3 separate regions of the Homo sapiens genome follow, and regions 1 and 3 are each linked to region 2. The links come from fine-mapping of genetic effects on gene expression. A gene starts in region 2. Each other region holds a variant in brackets. All regions are shown on one strand. Distances are from middle to middle.

Region 1 (5,910 bases), 22 kb before region 2:
TAACTTACAAAAATCACTTGTGTCCAGAAAGGTTATAATTGAGTGAGTGACTTGTTGGAAACATTTTCTTTTTGACCAGTTTGCTTTTGAATCATGCATCATGACTGGAGGCAAGACTGGGGATTCATGAAAATTCTTGCAAAGGAGCAGGTGGTAGGACGTAATTGGAAAAAAGTGATTGTTGAGGCAAAAATGCTAAAACACCAACATATTAATAGTTGGAAACCTGTTCGGGGTGAAAGAAAATGCCCACCCACCTCCAAAGGATTATGAGAAAAAGGACACCTTCTCAAAAGGGGTGTTAAGAATATATTTGTTTCAAGGTACACAAAACACTAACATGTATTTTCTTACCATCTTGGCATTTAAAAAAAATTAACTTTTAAAATATATTGAGTTACACACACTACAACAGTTTCCCAAAATGAAAGGGCGCTGAAATGTGTGGAATAAAAAGTGGAAGTACCACCAGGCATGGTGGCTCACGCCTGTAATCCCAGCACTTTGGAAGGCCAAGGCGGGCAGATCACCTGAGGTCAGGAGTTCGAGACCAGCCTGGCCAACAGGGTGAAACCCCATCTCTACTAAAAATACAAAAATTAGCCAGCATGGTGGCATGTGCCTGTGATCCCAGCTACCCAGAAGGCTGAGGCACGAGAATCACTAGAACCCAGGAGGCAGAGGCTGCAGTGAGCAGAGATTGTGCCACTGACTCCAGCCTGGGAGACAGACCAAGACTCTGTCTCAAAAACAACAACAAAAAGTGGAACTACCCTATCACACCTCACTCTCGCCTCTCCTGCCCAAACACACACCCTGAGCAAACCACTTACCTCCCTAGAGGCTGATGTACCAGTTCTGCATTTGGGTTTACATGCATGCGGTTGTGGATATATTTATAGTTTAATTTTTTTGTATAAGTGAGTCAATTTCTTTGTTCTTTAGCTTGCTTTTTTTTTTCTTCCAACCAAAGTAATGGCCATTATTTATTTATTTATTTATAGACAGAGTCTCACTCCGTTGCCCAGGCTGGAGTGCAGTGGCGTGATCTCAGCTCGCTGCAACCTCTGCCTCCCAGGTTCAAGCTATTCTCAGCCTCCCAAGTAGCTGGGATTACAGGCAGGAGCCACCATGCCTGGCTAATTTTTCGGGTTTTTTTTTTTTTTTTTTTTTTGAGACGGAGTCTCACTCTGTTGCCCAGGCTGGAATGCAGTGGCGCAGTCTCGACTCACTGCAACCTCCACTTCCCAGGTTCAAGCGATTCTCCTGCGTCACCCTTCCGAGTAGCTGGGATTACAGGCGCCCACCACCATGCCCAGCTGATTTTTGTATTTTTAGTAGAGATGGGGTTTCACCATGTTGGCCAGGCTGGTTTCAAACTCCTGACCTCAGGTGATCTGCCCACCTCAGCCTCCCAAAATGCTGGGATTACAGGTGTGAGCCACCGACCTGGCCTGCCTGCACTGTTAATTACCTGTTCCTCTATGTCCCCACTTCTCATGGTGGCCTCAGGTAGTGCACTAAATGGACGCATTTCAGTTCCACGAGCCATCCTGCCTATAAGTTATCTGTTGTGTAACAAACCCCACCACCGAGTGGCTTAAAACAAGAAGCATTTATTGCCTCACCGTTGCTGGGGGTCAAGAATCCAGGCTTGGCTGAGCTGCTGGCTCCCAGGCTCTCGGGGTTGCGGTCGAGCTGGTGGCTGGGGCTGTGCAGTCATCGGAAGGCTCCGTGAGGAGGGCCCACTTCCAGCCCACTCACATGCCTGTTGGCAGGATTCAGTTCCTCACAGGTGATGGGGCCGAGAGCCTCAGTTCCTAGCTGTTGGCTGGAGGTCTCCCTTGTTTTCTCGCCGTTGCAGGCCTCTTCACAGGGCACCTTGCAGTTGCAATGTGGCATCCAGCTTCTCTAGAAATATGAGAAGGGCTGGGTGCGGTGGCTCATGCCTGTAATCCCAGCACTTTTGGGAGGTCAAGGCGGGTGGATCACCTGAGGTCAGGAGTTTGAGACCAGCCTGGCCAACATGGTGAAACCCTGTCTCTACTAAAAATACAAAATATTAGCTGGGCGTGGTGGCAGGCATCTGGGAAATCCCAGCTACTCGGAATGCTGAGGCAGGAGAATCGCTTGAACCCAGGAGGTGGAGGTTGCAGTGAGCCAAGAACACACCATTGCACACCAGTCTGGGCTGCAAGAGTGAAACTGTCTCAAAAAAAAAGAAAAACAGAAATGAGAGAGGACGCCCAAGGTGGAAGCTGCAGTCTTTTGTAACCCAATCTTGGAAGTGATATCTTGTCACTCTTGCTATATTCTGTACATTACAACAAGTTGCTAGGTTCTGCCCACACTCAAGCTGAGAGGACAGTGCAGACAGGAGGTGAGGGTCATGGGGGCTGTCTTTCAGGGTGCCCACCACACTGCACCCTGCCAGTTGAGGGCCTGTCCAGTTTTTCTTTTATTTCTTCTTTTTTTTTTTGAGATGGAGTCTCGCTCTATTGCCCAGGCTGGAGTGCACTGGTGTGATCTCAGCTCACTGCAGCCTCCGCCTCCCGAGTAGCTGGGATTACAGGCACATACCACCACACCCAGCTAATATTTGTATTTTTAGTAGAGATGGGATTTTGCCATGTTGCCCAGGTTGGTCTCGAACTCCTGACCTCAAGTGATCCACCCACCT[C/T]GGGCTCCCAAAGTGCTGGGATTACAGGCGTGAGCCACCACGCCCGGCCAGTTTTTCACTATTATCAGACATGCTGGAGAGGATGAATGTGTATTTTTTTAACCCACTTGTGCAGGCATTCCTATGGGATGCATTCCCAGCAGCAGAATTTCAAAACTAAGTATGCCAACTTTATTTACATGACCCAAAAAATGTTGTATTCATGTTTCGCATATACGAGAAACCTTCCTATGGTTCACACTTGGAGGGGCTCCAGAAACCAACCAATGCAGTCTCTCTCAGCTCCCTCTAGAGATCAGTTACCAATTGCTTAAGTGTCTTTTCAGAGAGACGTATAAGCAGGTACAAGCAAATAGAGAAACTGATTGATTTTCTGGCTTTTCTATCCAGTGGCAATCTCCTTTATTCTATCATTTTTTTGTTTGTTTTTCAATCTAACAACATATCTTGAAGTTTGGACAAAAAGCCTTCATTTTATTTATTTTTAAAAATAGCCCAGGGGGCTGGGCACAGTGGCTCCTGCCTGTAATCTCAAACCCAGGACGCTGGGTTTGGGGATAGGGCAGATGTATGTCTTTTACAATCTGGGAACACTCAGCATGGTCTGTGCTGGAGGGCAGATGGTGGCAGAGAGGCTGAGAAGCGCGGCAGTGACGAGGGTAAGACGGTCCCAAGCCCGAGGGGCTTGGCCCCTTGTTTATTCCACAAAGTGGAGGCCAACACCTACTGAGATTAAGAACCTGGGCCCTGTCCCTGTCCCGTGTCTCCGCAGCCTGTGACGTCAGGCTTTTGCTTCCAGATCCTTGGTTTCCCCATCTGTGGAGTGGGGATTAAAAGATTGTTGAACTCATGGCCTGCTGTGTGAGAATTCAGTGAGTTCAGACATGAAGTTCTTGAGAAATATTAACTACTATTATTGCCAGGGGTCTCACTCTGTCAACCCTGGAGTGCAGTGGCATGACCTTGGTTCACTGCAGCCTCTGCCTAGAGGGGTCAAGCAGTCTTCCCACCTCCACTTGTCGAGTAGCTGGGACTACAGACACGCACCACCATGCCCAGCTAATTTTTGTATTTTTTGTAGAGACAGAGTTTTACTCTGTTGCTCAGGCTGGTCTCGAACTCCTGGCCTCAAGTAATTCTCCTACCTCAGCCTCCAGAGTAGCTGGGACTAGAGACATGTAACACCACGCCTGGCTAGTTTTATAGTTGTAGAGATGGGGTCTTGCTATGTTGCCCAGGCTGGTCTCAAACTCCTGGGCTCAAGCAATGCTCCAACCTCAGCCTCCCAAAGTGTTGAAACTACAGGTGTGAGCCTCTGCGTCTGGACACACACGATGATGACAAAGTTGAAATACCTAGAGTTTGCAAAGCATGTATCAGGCAGACCTTTAAAAAAAAAATCAGCCATAAACTATTTTGTAATTGCAAAGAAAGAAAAGAAAAATCCAAGCCAGAGATGATCTTACTCCCATTTCTTAGCATAAAGCATTTTATTATCTTTTTTATTTGTTTGTTTTGAGACGGAGTCTCACACTGTTACCTGGGCTGGAGTGCAGTGGCACAATCTCAGCTCAATGCAACCTCCGCCTCCTGGGTTCAAGTGATTCTCCTGCCTCAGCTTCCCAAGTAGCTGGGATTACAGGCACCCACTACCATGCCCAGCTAATTTTTTGTATTTTTAGTACAGACATGGTTTCACCATGTTGGCCAGGCTGGTCTTGAACTCCTGACCTCATGATTTGCCCGCCTCAGCCTCCCAAAGTGCTGGGATTACAGGTGTGAGCCACCGCACCCAGCCTATTAGCATTTTTTGAGACAGAATGTCGCTCTGTCGCCCAGATTGGAGTGCAGCTCACTGCAACCTCCGCCTCCCCGGGTTTAAGCAATTCTCCTGCTTGAATTGGAGGATCAATCAGGAGACTGTATTTGTATTCCTGAGTAGCTGGGATTGCAGGCGCCTGCCACCACGTCTGGCTAATTTTTGTATTTTTAGTAGAGATGGGGTTTCACCAGGTTGGCCAGGCTGGTCTCCTGACAACAGGTGATCCACCTGCCTCAGCCTCCCAAAGTGCTAGGATTACAGGCATGAGCCACCGTGCCCGGCCAGTATAAAACACTTTGTCCATGTTGTCATTGTGTCCTAGCCTATGTCATCCAACCTATATGTACTGCCAGTTTGTTCTTCTAGGAAACTCAGACTTGGTAGTTGATTGGTTTAACAAATGTTGGTTAAACTGGGATTATTTGGGAAAAAAAAATTGTGTATATCAGGAAAGGCCAGATTACCCCCAGATTGCAGTGGCTTGAAACAGCCAAGGTGGATTTTGTCACTCGTGCTGTATTGAGTGTCAGCTTGGAGCCCGTGCGGACAGATCATGAAGGTTGCCAATGGACATAGTAAAGGCAGAGGGGTCTGGTCTTCCATTAGCAATTATGTGCTCTTGCTGAATTCACATGTGTCACTTCTGCTCATATCTCATTGGCCAGATGTAATCACATGGCCTCACACCTTACTGGCCAAAATTAATCACATGGCCGCACTCAAGCTAAATGGGGTCAAATGCTGGCCAAGTGTGGAGCTAGAAATATATGGCAAATAGCACTAACGGCCATCTTAACACTTTAAACATCTTATTTTAACCAAGAACATTTAAACAGACATCTCTTGTACGTAGGACCAAGACCCTTTCTTTCAGTATTGGTCTCCTAGTTAGCACACGACATTACATTCTTGTTTTTGAGACAGGGTCTCACTTTGTCACTTGGACTGAAGTGCAGTGGTGTGAACACGGCTCACTACAGCCTCAATCTCCTGGACTCAAGAGATCCTCCCACCTCAGCCTCCTGAGTAGCTGGGACCACAGGTGCATGCCACCATGCCTAGAAAATTATTGTTGTTTTTGTAGAGGTGGGAGTCTCACTGTGTTGCCCAGGCTGGTCTCGAGCTCCTGGGCTCAAGCAATCTTCCCACCTCAGCCTCCCAATGTGTTGGGATTACGGGCATGAGCCACTGCGCCCAGTAGAACATCACATTCTTGTATAAGCTCCACCCACAAACCACAATGAGTCATTTTTTTAAGTGGCTTGAGAACCTAAAGACATTTATGAAACAAACTGGGGGCTGAGTCTTCCTAGGTTTTTATAAGCTTTTTCATTAAATAATTTACAGTTGCTTTACTTGTACCTAACTTGGCAGCATTTTTTTTTTTTTAAGAGATGGAGTCTTGCTT
Region 2 (4,000 bases):
TCACTTTGGAACGGGCTTTGGAACGGTTACAGGTTTTCAGCCTTGTCCGAATCTTTTTTTTTTTTTTTTTTTTTTTTCCCCTGGAGATATAGGCTTGTTTTGTCGCCCAGGCTGGAGTGCAGTGGTGCAATCTTGGCTCATTGAAACCTGTGCCTCCTGGGTTCAAACGATTCTCCTGCCTCAGCTACCCGAGTAGCTGGGATTACAGGCACCCGCCACCATGCCCCGCTAATTTTTGTATTTTTAGTAGAGATGGGGTTTCGCCATGTTGGCCAGGCTGGTCACAAACTCCTGATCTCGGGTGATCCGCCCGCCTAGCCTCCCAAAGTGCTGGGATTACAGGCGTGAGCCACCGCGCCTGGCCGCCTTGTCCAATTTCTAAGGTCTTGGACAGGTACCCACCCCACTGAAACAGGCAACACTTCTTTCTTTACTGGACACATCCCCTTCTCTCCCAGCCATATTTTTTCTTTTCTTTTTTTGAGACAGGTTCTCGCTCTGTCACCCAGGCTGAAGTACAGTGTGGTGATCACTGCTCACTACACCCTTGACCTACTGGGCTCAAGGGATCCTCCCGCTTCAGCCTCCCGATTAGGAACTACAAGGACGCGCCACCATTCCCGCTAATTTTTTAGAGAGACAGGTTTCACCATGTCGCTCAGGCTGGTCTCGAACTCCTGGGTTCAAGCGATCCGCCCGCCTCGGCCTCCCAAAGTGCTGGGATTACAGGCTTGAGCCACCACGCCCGGCCCCAATCAGATTTTCCTAATGTACCCCTTCACTGACGGCTTGCAATTCCTCCCCAAATCCCATCCCCAGGCCTTGCTGGCCCTTGCAGAGGCACTGATACCTGTTTCACTGCCACTGTCCGGGTCTCAGGATCTGCGACCAGCTCCACTGAGGATTGGAGGGGTGGAGTCAGGATTTGCATCCTTGTGTGATTGGGTCCCTCATTTCTGGGGAGTGTGGCCTGCTTCAGGCTATAGCATCCAGGGAGTAAGAGGCAGTTTATTTCTACATGGGATTGGCTCCTTGACATGCAGTAGCCAGATAGTGGCACTAGGATTGCCTGACACTGGTCCTTGCAAGGGACAGGGAGGTACTTTTCTCTACAGAATTGGTTTCCTCCTTGACAAAAAATGTGGCTAGATATAGGTCCGGGGCTTGGCCTGTTACCATCCATCCCAACCTAGCGACATTTACTTTTCTCCACAGGATCATTTTTCTCTTGACGAAGGTCGTCGCCTGTTTCTGGATTTCCCGATGGCCTGAGCATCATCCGCGCAGTGAACATCCTCCCTAAATCGGCTCGATCCCCTCTCCCCCAAAGGATCTAGCTAATTCTAAATCAAGCACAAACTTTATCTTCCTGTACTCCCTAGAGAGCACCTTCCGACTTCGGGGCTGGCTGCACCACTGCAATCCCGCGTAGCAGCCAAGCGTCCCTCTGGATTGTTCCCGCTTTTGCAGCAGGCCACACCCCCTCCAGCTCAGGCCCCGCTCACCTTGAGTTCTGGAGCACTTCCGGTCCGTAACCTGGGTCAGGGGTCCCCTGCCCAGGACCAGGGCTTGCCCGTCCGAGGGCAGGAAGATGGGGGGCGCTCCCCCAGGGGGGCTCTCGAGCCACAAGCGGCCCGGGGCCTCCACCTCGCCCATCCTGGGTGCCGGCCTGGGGAGCAGGTAAACGGGCTTGAGCGGCGCACAGCCCCAATTTGCTGCAGGAAGTCCCGCCTCCTCCCACATCCACTAGAAAGTTTCCCCACCATTAACTGCTCCGGAAGTCCCACCCGCTCGCCTTCCGCGGGTCGACCCGTTTCCCAGGCGACGACGCGTGCTCCATCCCTCCCCGAGTTGCAATCCCCACTTTCCAGCGTACAGGCAGAGAGCCTCGCACATGCCTCCGCCCCGCCCCGTACTCACCCGGGACCGCGGCTTGGGCTCACGGCCACTTCCGACCAGGGAGGTCCTGCCCGAGGTGCCCCGCCTGCAACCCGGCCGGCGGCGGTCGGTTCCTCGGCGGACGGAAATGACTCGTCCCCTCGTGGGTGGGGGGCGGGGCCTGGCCTCCTCCCACAGCAGCCACGCCCCTTCCCCGACTCCCGGCCCCCAGGGTCTCTCGGCAGCCCTGACCTTCATCTCTCTTGCTGCAACGCGAGGCTCAGGCCGGTAGCGGGGACTGGATCCTCCGTTAGCAGATTTGCCTCTTTCCACCTTGACTTCTAATTTTCATCCCAGGGAGGAAGATTTTTTTCCCATCTGATGGTCATTGTCAGTCGAGGAAACCTCCGCCCCCGACAGCGCCCCTAAGTCCTTCTTTGGCTTCACCCTCGATGTTCTAGTTTCCTCATCTATAAAAAGGATAATCGTTTCCGCTTCGTGGGGTTACCATGACGATTAAAGGAGCTAACACGTGACAAAAGCTTTAAAAAATGGGTGGTAGTGAGCCCTGTTTAAGTCTTTTTTTTTTTTTTTTTTTGAGACGGAGTCTCACTCTGTCGCCCAGGCTGGAGTGCAGTGGCGCGATCTCGGCTCACCTGCAAGCTCCGCCTCCCGGGTTGACGCCATTCTCCTGTCTCAGCCTCCCGAGTAGCTGGGACTACAGGCGCCCGCCACCACGCCCAGCTAATTTTTTGTATTTTGAGTAGAGACGGGGTTTCACCGTGTTAGCCAGGACGGTCTCGATCTCCTGATCTCGTGATCCGCCCACCTCGGCCTCCCAAAGTGCTCAGATCCGTTTAAGTCTTATTTAGTGTTAGCATTCTTTCGGTAGTGGTCTGGTGGGACTACGTTTACCTAGTCCTAATTTCGGACGAGGTTCCACCTGCTTTCTAACCTCCAGCCATTTTTTTTTCCCTTTGGAGAAGGGGTCTCACTGTGCTGCCCAGGCTGATCTCGACCTCCTGGTGTCATGTGATCCTCCCGCCTTGGCCTCCCAGCGTGTTGGGCTTATAGGCGTGAGGCACCAAGCCCAGTTGCTCCAGTCCTTTTATAATAGAAGACTCCCGGCTGGAGTTCCTGGCTTTGCTGGTGAATATGTGGGCTCTGTCTCCAACACTCACCTCCTCAAGATTGGGTTCCATGGTCACATAAGACTGGGATGCTCTCCTCCACCCCATGAACCTGTGTCTTCATATCTATAAAATGGGCACAAAGCCAGGCGCCGTGGCTCACGCCTGTAATCCCAGCACTTTGGGAGGCCAAGGCGGGTGGATCATTTGAGGTCAGGAGTTCAAGACCATCCTGACCAACATGATGAAACCCTGTTTCTACTGAAAATACAAAAATTACCCGGGCGGCAGTGGCGCGTAATCCCAGCTACTCGGGAGGTTGAGGCAGGAGAATCGCTTGAACCTGGGCGAGAGTGGGACCCTGTCTCAAAAAAGTAAATAAAATGGGCACAGTAATTCCAACCCCCAGCTATTCACTGATAATCAGACGCTGCCATTCGGTTTCAGAAAATGTTGAATGAACACTCACAACACACTTCACATTTATCTCAGAGGTAAAACTCTTTAATCTCAGAGCGCCCCTCCCAACTGCCGATCCCCCAACCCCTCACTCTCTCCCCCACACCAGGGCCGGAGAGTGAGGGCCCCTGCCCCCCACCTTGGGTGGACGAGGGCCCTTTAAGGCACCTGTGGAGGTGGGGGGCGAGGGGCGGGAGCTGGTACCATCCTGGATGCAGGGACGGGCTTCGATTGGCAGGCTGTTGTGGGGATGGATGGAACCAATGAAAGGGGGTGCCAGAGGCAGGGACAGTTTGGGGCCATCCCTGAGGGGGTCAGGGAACAAGTTGTCGGGACGTGGGCAAAGACGACCCCAGTCCCCGTAGTGTAAAGAACGTAAATTGAAGGCCCCGGGCCAATTCTGGGAAGAGGAGGGCTTGGCCACGCCCCCAGGAAGCTGGAGCCAATTGGGAGGGAGAACTCAGGAAAAGCGGACGGTGACTATGTAGAGACTGGTCAAGCCCTTTACAGGATTTGAGCCAATCAAAAAAAGA
Region 3 (5,910 bases), 65 kb before region 2:
GGGTCACTGGAGGTGCAGTACTGCGATGCAAGGCCGGCAAGGTTAAGACCTGGATCCTTGGGGGCTGTGAGATGGGTCAGCTGGGGCCCGAGTCCTCCACCTTCTCCTGTCAGTTTCTCTCACCATCCCTCTCTTGTGGCCCCTGCTGGCAGTGAGCCCAACCTCCTGGTTCGGGCCTGCAACCAGCTGGGCCAGTTCCTGCAGCACCGGGAGACCAACCTGCGCTACCTGGCCCTGGAGAGCATGTGCACGCTGGCCAGCTCCGAGTTCTCCCATGAAGCCGTCAAGACGCACATTGACACCGTCATCAATGCCCTCAAGGTGTGAGCCCTTGGAGCCCACCCCGGGCCTGCCACCCCCCTCAGAAAGACCAGAGGCTCAGAGGCCCTTGGGTGGCCAACCCTGTGCCAACAGGGAGTCTAAAACACACCTGGGCTCTGCTCTCCGCCCTCAGACGGAGCGGGACGTCAGCGTGCGGCAGCGGGCGGCTGACCTCCTCTACGCCATGTGTGACCGGAGCAATGCCAAGCAGATCGTGTCGGAGATGCTGCGGTACCTGGAGACGGCAGACTACGCCATCCGCGAGGAGATCGTGAGTGCTGTGGGGTGCGGGCTGGACTCTTGGGTCTGAGGCAGGAGGTGGCTGGGGGCCTGGATTCCTAAGTCTAAGGGAGGAGGGGCTGGGGCCTGGACTCCTGGGTCTCCAGATGGGGGCAGTGGTGAGCCCAGATCCAGGTGAGTGAAAGCCCGACATGGCCTGCGGCACACTCTCTCTCACACGCCCCGGCGGCAGGTCCTGAAGGTGGCCATCCTGGCCGAGAAGTACGCCGTGGACTACAGCTGGTACGTGGACACCATCCTCAACCTCATCCGCATTGCGGGCGACTACGTGAGTGAGGAGGTGTGGTACCGTGTGCTACAGATCGTCACCAACCGTGATGACGTCCAGGGCTATGCCGCCAAGACCGTCTTTGAGGTCAGCATCCCTGACCCTGACCCTATGACCCCACGACAGGACCTAGAGGCAGAGCAAGGATGGCCGGGGCCGTGGCGCCTGCCAGCCCGCAGCCACCCTCCTTCTCCTGCACTGCCGTGACCTCAAAATGGGGCCTCTGCCTCTCTGGGCCAACCCAGGGGACCCAGGGCTATGGTCTCATGGGCCTGATGTGAGGAGTCCCCAGGGCATGGGCATGGGGCACCCAGTGTGCAGTCCTGGCCCCCGGATCTCGGTAGTTTCCCTCTGCCCCAGGAAAGGGGCCCCACACAGTCCTGTTTTTTGTTTGTTTGTTTGTTTGTTTCTGGAGACGGAGTCTCACTCTGTTGCCCAGGCTGGAGTGGGGAGTGAGTGCCGTGGTGCGATCTCGGCTCACTGCAACCTCGGCCTCCCAGCGTCAAGCCATTCTCCTGCCTCAGCCTCCCCAGTAGCTGGTACTACAGGCACGCGCCACCACACCCAGCTAATTTGTTTGTATTTTTAGTAGAGACGGGGTTTCACCATGTTACCCAGGCTGGTTTGAAACTCCTGAGCTCAGGCAATCTGCCCGCCTCGGCCTCCCAAAGTACCAGGATTACAGGCATGAGCCACTGCTTCCGGCCCACAGCCCTGTTTTACTTCCTGTGTGAGCTTGGGCCCGTCACTCAACCTTTCTGTGACTCAGTTTCCCACCTATAACCCCACCTGCAGCAGAGCTTTCAGTGTTCCACCAGTCAGTAGGTGGCTGCACCCACCGATCCCGGAGAGGGCGCTCATTGTTGTCCTCTCCACGCCCTTCCCCACCCCACTCAGGCGCTCCAGGCCCCTGCCTGTCACGAGAACATGGTGAAGGTTGGCGGCTACATCCTTGGGGAGTTTGGGAACCTGATTGCTGGGGACCCCCGCTCCAGGTGAGGGAGCCTCAGCCTGCAGGGGAGAACACACATGCTTCTGAGGGGTCCAGGGCTTGGGGGATCCCCAGGGGTCTCAGGGCAGGCAGTGATGGGCTCCCATCCTCTCGGCCTCCACCCCAATCCACCTAGCAGGGTAAGAAAGGAGCTTAGTCCCAGGATCGTGGACAGAGTGTGACTGCGGCCCCTGTCTGGTGCCTGGGGAGGGCCACTCCCCTCCAGCAGCTTGGGGTCCTGGGACGGGTCCATCCTAGGGAGGGGCACCTCTCGAGGGGGTTTCTGGGAGAGGGCAGTGGAACCTGGCCCCGCTGACACCCACTCCTGCACACAGCCCCCCAGTGCAGTTCTCCCTGCTCCACTCCAAGTTCCATCTGTGCAGCGTGGCCACGCGGGCGCTGCTGCTGTCCACCTACATCAAGTTCATCAACCTCTTCCCCGAGACCAAGGCCACCATCCAGGGCGTCCTGCGGGCCGGCTCCCAGCTGCGCAATGCTGACGTGGAGCTGCAGCAGCGAGCCGTGGAGTACCTCACCCTCAGCTCAGTGGCCAGCACCGACGTCCTGGTCAGAGCCCTGTCCCCCCACCCCACCCCTCTTGCACACCCCCTTCCCGCCCTCCCCTCCTCCTGACCCGAACTGACCTTCCCCACCCCGACCGCGCCAGGCCACGGTGCTGGAGGAGATGCCGCCCTTCCCCGAGCGCGAGTCGTCCATCCTGGCCAAGCTGAAACGCAAGAAGGGGCCAGGGGCCGGCAGCGCCCTGGACGATGGCCGGAGGGACCCCAGCAGCAACGACATCAACGGGGGCATGGAGCCCACCCCCAGCACTGTGGTGAGTCCCCTGGGGTGGGCCCTGCCAGGGTGCCTGGGGCTGGGTCCTGCCGGGCGCCGCCTGTCCTCACCGTGACCTGCGCTTCCTACAGTCGACGCCCTCGCCCTCCGCCGACCTCCTGGGGCTGCGGGCAGCCCCTCCCCCGGCAGCACCCCCGGCTTCTGCAGGAGCAGGGAACCTTCTGGTGGACGTCTTCGATGGCCCGGCCGCCCAGCCCAGCCTGGGGCCCACCCCCGAGGAGGCCTTCCTCAGGTAGCACCCCCTGGGCCCGGGCCCCTTCTCGCGGCCACCCCCAGGGCTGTCCCTTCTCGGCCTCTGTCCCCGTTTTCCCTGAGCCCCTCCCCCGCCCCCGACTCGCTCCTCTCTCCATCCTGATGCCTTCGCCAGCCCTGGCTGCTGCCTCCCCTGCCCCAGCCTCCCTGCTCACGCCCTCCCTCTGCCACTCTGGACTCCGCCGACCCTGGCCACCCTTCGTTGTCTCCTTTCCTGTCACCGTTTCTCAGCCTGCTCTTCCTTTTCTCCTTCTCTCCTTCCCTCTTCCGTCCCTCCCTCTCTGTCTCTCTTCTGCCCTCTCGCTGCCTATGTGGAATTGGCTGCCTGCCACGCCTGTCTTCTCTTGTCTGCTCTGGGATTGGATGGCTCAGCGAGCTGGAGCCGCCTGCCCCCGAGAGCCCCATGGCTTTGCTGGCTGACCCAGCTCCAGCTGCTGAGTAAGGGGTGGCCTGGGGTGGGAGGTCGGTCGGGGGG[G/C]CGGACTCGGGTGTCCCCAGGGAGAGTTAGGGGACTGGGAGCCCTCGTCAACGGGTTCCTGATGAGCAGCAGAGGCAGGGACTTGGAGGAAAGGGAAACTTGGTGTCTGCCGATGCGGGGGCACGGGCCAGGGTTCTATTCCCATTGGAGGCCACTGCTGGATGGATGCGAGGTTCCTCGAGGCTCTGTGAGGGGTCTGGATATGTGGTTCTGGGGTTCTGTCCTTAGGGCTTGTTCTCGCACTCAATCGCTCTGGGCCTTTGCCCCTCCCCACCAAGTTCCTTCCCATCTCACTCTGCTCCATGCCTCCAGCCCAGGTCCTGAGGACATCGGCCCTCCCATTCCGGAAGCCGATGAGTTGCTGAATAAGTGAGTCCTGGGAGTGGTGGGGGAGGGGAACGGGACAGGTGCGGAGCCCAGGCCAGGTGCAGACAGGCACCCCCGTCATCTTGCGCCCCCTGCCCCCTCAGGTTTGTGTGTAAGAACAACGGGGTCCTGTTCGAGAACCAGCTGCTGCAGATCGGAGTCAAGTCAGAGTTCCGACAGAACCTGGGTGTGTCCCGGGGGACTGTGGGAATGGGTCGGAGGGAGACCTTGGGGAAGGGGTCAGAGGGACTCAGATGGAGCTCTGCCTCCCCCACCTACTGCAGGCCGCATGTATCTCTTCTATGGCAACAAGACCTCGGTGCAGTTCCAGAATTTCTCACCCACTGTGGTTCACCCGGGAGACCTCCAGACTCATATCCTCTCAGGCCCGGCCCAGCCTCCTGCCTCTCCACGTCGGCCTTCCTCACCGTGGGGAAGCCGGCTGACCCAGGTCCACACTTCTCTTCAGCCTCTCTTGGGCACGCAATTAGTTCTCTGAGATTGAGTGTCTGCATCTGTTAAGATGGGGGTGGGATTCCTTCCCCCAGGACAGGGGATGACAGTGAAGTGGTGTGTGGGAGGCTTTACTTCCAGAACTCCACCTGCTCCAGGCCTCATTTTGTCCCTGTCTGGCACCTTCCGTGTCCTGCCATCGTCCTCCACTGGGCTCCATGTCATGATGCCAGCACCGCCTGCACTCAGGAGCCAGGCCTGCGGGTCCAGACGCTGATCAGGCCTGATCTGGGCTGAGTCACTTTGCCTCTCTGGGCTCTCCTGTCCCCGCTGTGAAGTGTATGTAGACCCTCCTCTTCCTCATAGGGTTATTGTGAAGATCAGAGTGTCTGGAAAACCCTGGAAGGGCGGCTGGAGGTATCAGTCCCCCCTGCCCGTTCTCTGGGCCTCCATTGCCACATTCATGAAATTAGAAAAGCTCGACCTGAAAACTCCTTCTGGCCGGGCATGGGGGCTCACACCTGTAATCCCAGCACTGGCAGGCTGAGGCCAGTGGATCATTTGAGGTCAGGAGTTCAAGACCAGCCTGGCCAACATGGTGAAACCCCATCTCCACTAAAAATACAAAAATCAGCTGGGTGGTAGTGGCACGCGACTGTAATCCCAGCTACTCAGGAGGCTGAGACAGGAGAATCGCTTGAGCCTGGGAGGTGGTGGTTGTGGTGAGCCGAGATTGTACCACTACACTCCAGTCTGGGCGACAGTCTCAAAAAAAAGAAAAAGAAAAGAAAAAATTCCTTCTTCGGTCGGGCACGGTGGCTCACGCCTGTAATCCTAGCACTTTGAGTGGCCAAGGTGGTTGGATCACGAGGTCAGGAGATCGAGACCATTCTGGCTAACATGGTGAAACCCCTTCTCTACTAAAAATACAAAAAATTAGCCGGGCGTGGTGGTGGGCGCCTGTAGTCCCAGCTACTCGGGAGGCTGAGGCAGGAGAGTGGCGTGAACCCAGGAGGCGAAGTTGCAGTAAGCCGAGATTGCGCCGCTGCACTCCAGCCTGGGCGACAGCGAGACTCCGTCTCAGGAAAAAAAAAAAAAAAAATTCCTTCTTTCATAATTTCCAGAGGCTCGTGCAGGCAGCTCAGTGGAGGCAGTGACAAAAGAACATGAGACCCAGGCCTTCCCAGTGGGCTACTGACACGGATGCAGATGATGATAACACTAATTGCTACCATCTTTGTGTACTTACCATGTGCCGGGCACACAGACAAGTACTTGTGATGGATTCTTTTCTTTTCTTTTTTTAAATAGAGTTGAGGCCTCGCTATGTTGCCCAGGCTGGTCTCAAACTCCTGGGCTCAGTGATCCTCCCCACCTTGGCCTCCCAAAGTGCTGGATTACAGGCGTGAGCCGCCACACCCGGCTGGATTATTTCATCAACTCCTGAGGACATTTTACACATGTCCTTGTGTTGAGACAGGGCCTCACTCACCCAAGCTGGAATGCAGTGGCATGAACACTGCTCACTGCAGCCTCGAACTTCTGGGCTCAAGGCATCCTCCTGCCTCAGCCTCCCAAGTAGCTGGGACTACAGGTGCACATCACCATGCCTGGCTAATTTTTTTGTAG

Direction of the effects. Alleles are on the strand shown, and positions count from the first base shown. SD is a standard deviation of normalised expression in the study named. Not every link is listed here.
For the expression in CD8 T cells of the gene that starts at base 2,028 in region 2, allele T in region 1 goes with a lower level than allele C (large effect, 1.1 SD a copy in CEDAR).

The links. PIP is the estimated chance that this variant, and not a neighbour inherited with it, causes the effect.
Region 1: its variant is the best candidate, but not a certain one, in a credible set for the expression of PNKP in CD8 T cells (CEDAR, PIP 0.81).
Region 3: its variant is the best candidate, but not a certain one, in a credible set for the expression of PNKP in whole blood (INTERVAL, PIP 0.82).

What each region holds. Positions count from the first base shown.
Region 1 is chr19:49,842,688-49,848,597 of GRCh38, forward strand. It overlaps PTOV1-AS1 (PTOV1 antisense RNA 1), which reads right to left. Exons shown (of 4, transcript NR_040037.1): 2 at 4,036-4,066; 3 at 1,629-2,205. Among named protein-coding and RNA genes, the nearest start is that of PTOV1, 5.5 kb to the right of the region's middle. The variant C/T (reference allele first, on the strand shown) is at 2,681.
Region 2 is chr19:49,865,549-49,869,548 of GRCh38, forward strand. It overlaps PNKP (polynucleotide kinase 3'-phosphatase), which reads right to left and starts at 2,028. Exons shown (of 17, transcript NM_007254.4): 1 at 1,921-2,028; 2 at 1,506-1,669; 3 at 851-897. The coding sequence starts at 1,656. It overlaps AKT1S1 (AKT1 substrate 1), which reads right to left. Exons shown (of 5, transcript NM_001098633.4): 5 at 3,491-4,000. RefSeq lists enhancers at 1-700, 701-1,483, 1,484-2,265 and silencers at 1,425-1,794, 1,865-2,164.
Region 3 is chr19:49,799,175-49,805,084 of GRCh38, forward strand. AP2A1 (adaptor related protein complex 2 subunit alpha 1) reads left to right here. Exons shown (of 23, transcript NM_130787.3): 9 at 153-321; 10 at 455-592; 11 at 794-976; 12 at 1,787-1,884; 13 at 2,216-2,447; 14 at 2,548-2,715; 15 at 2,807-2,967; 16 at 3,775-3,831; 17 at 3,933-4,015; 18 at 4,113-4,202. It overlaps LOC124904742 (a long non-coding RNA gene), which reads right to left and starts at 976. Exons shown (of 2, transcript XR_007067290.1): 1 at 431-976. RefSeq lists enhancers at 1,050-1,550, 3,384-3,899, 3,900-4,413. The variant G/C (reference allele first, on the strand shown) is at 3,463.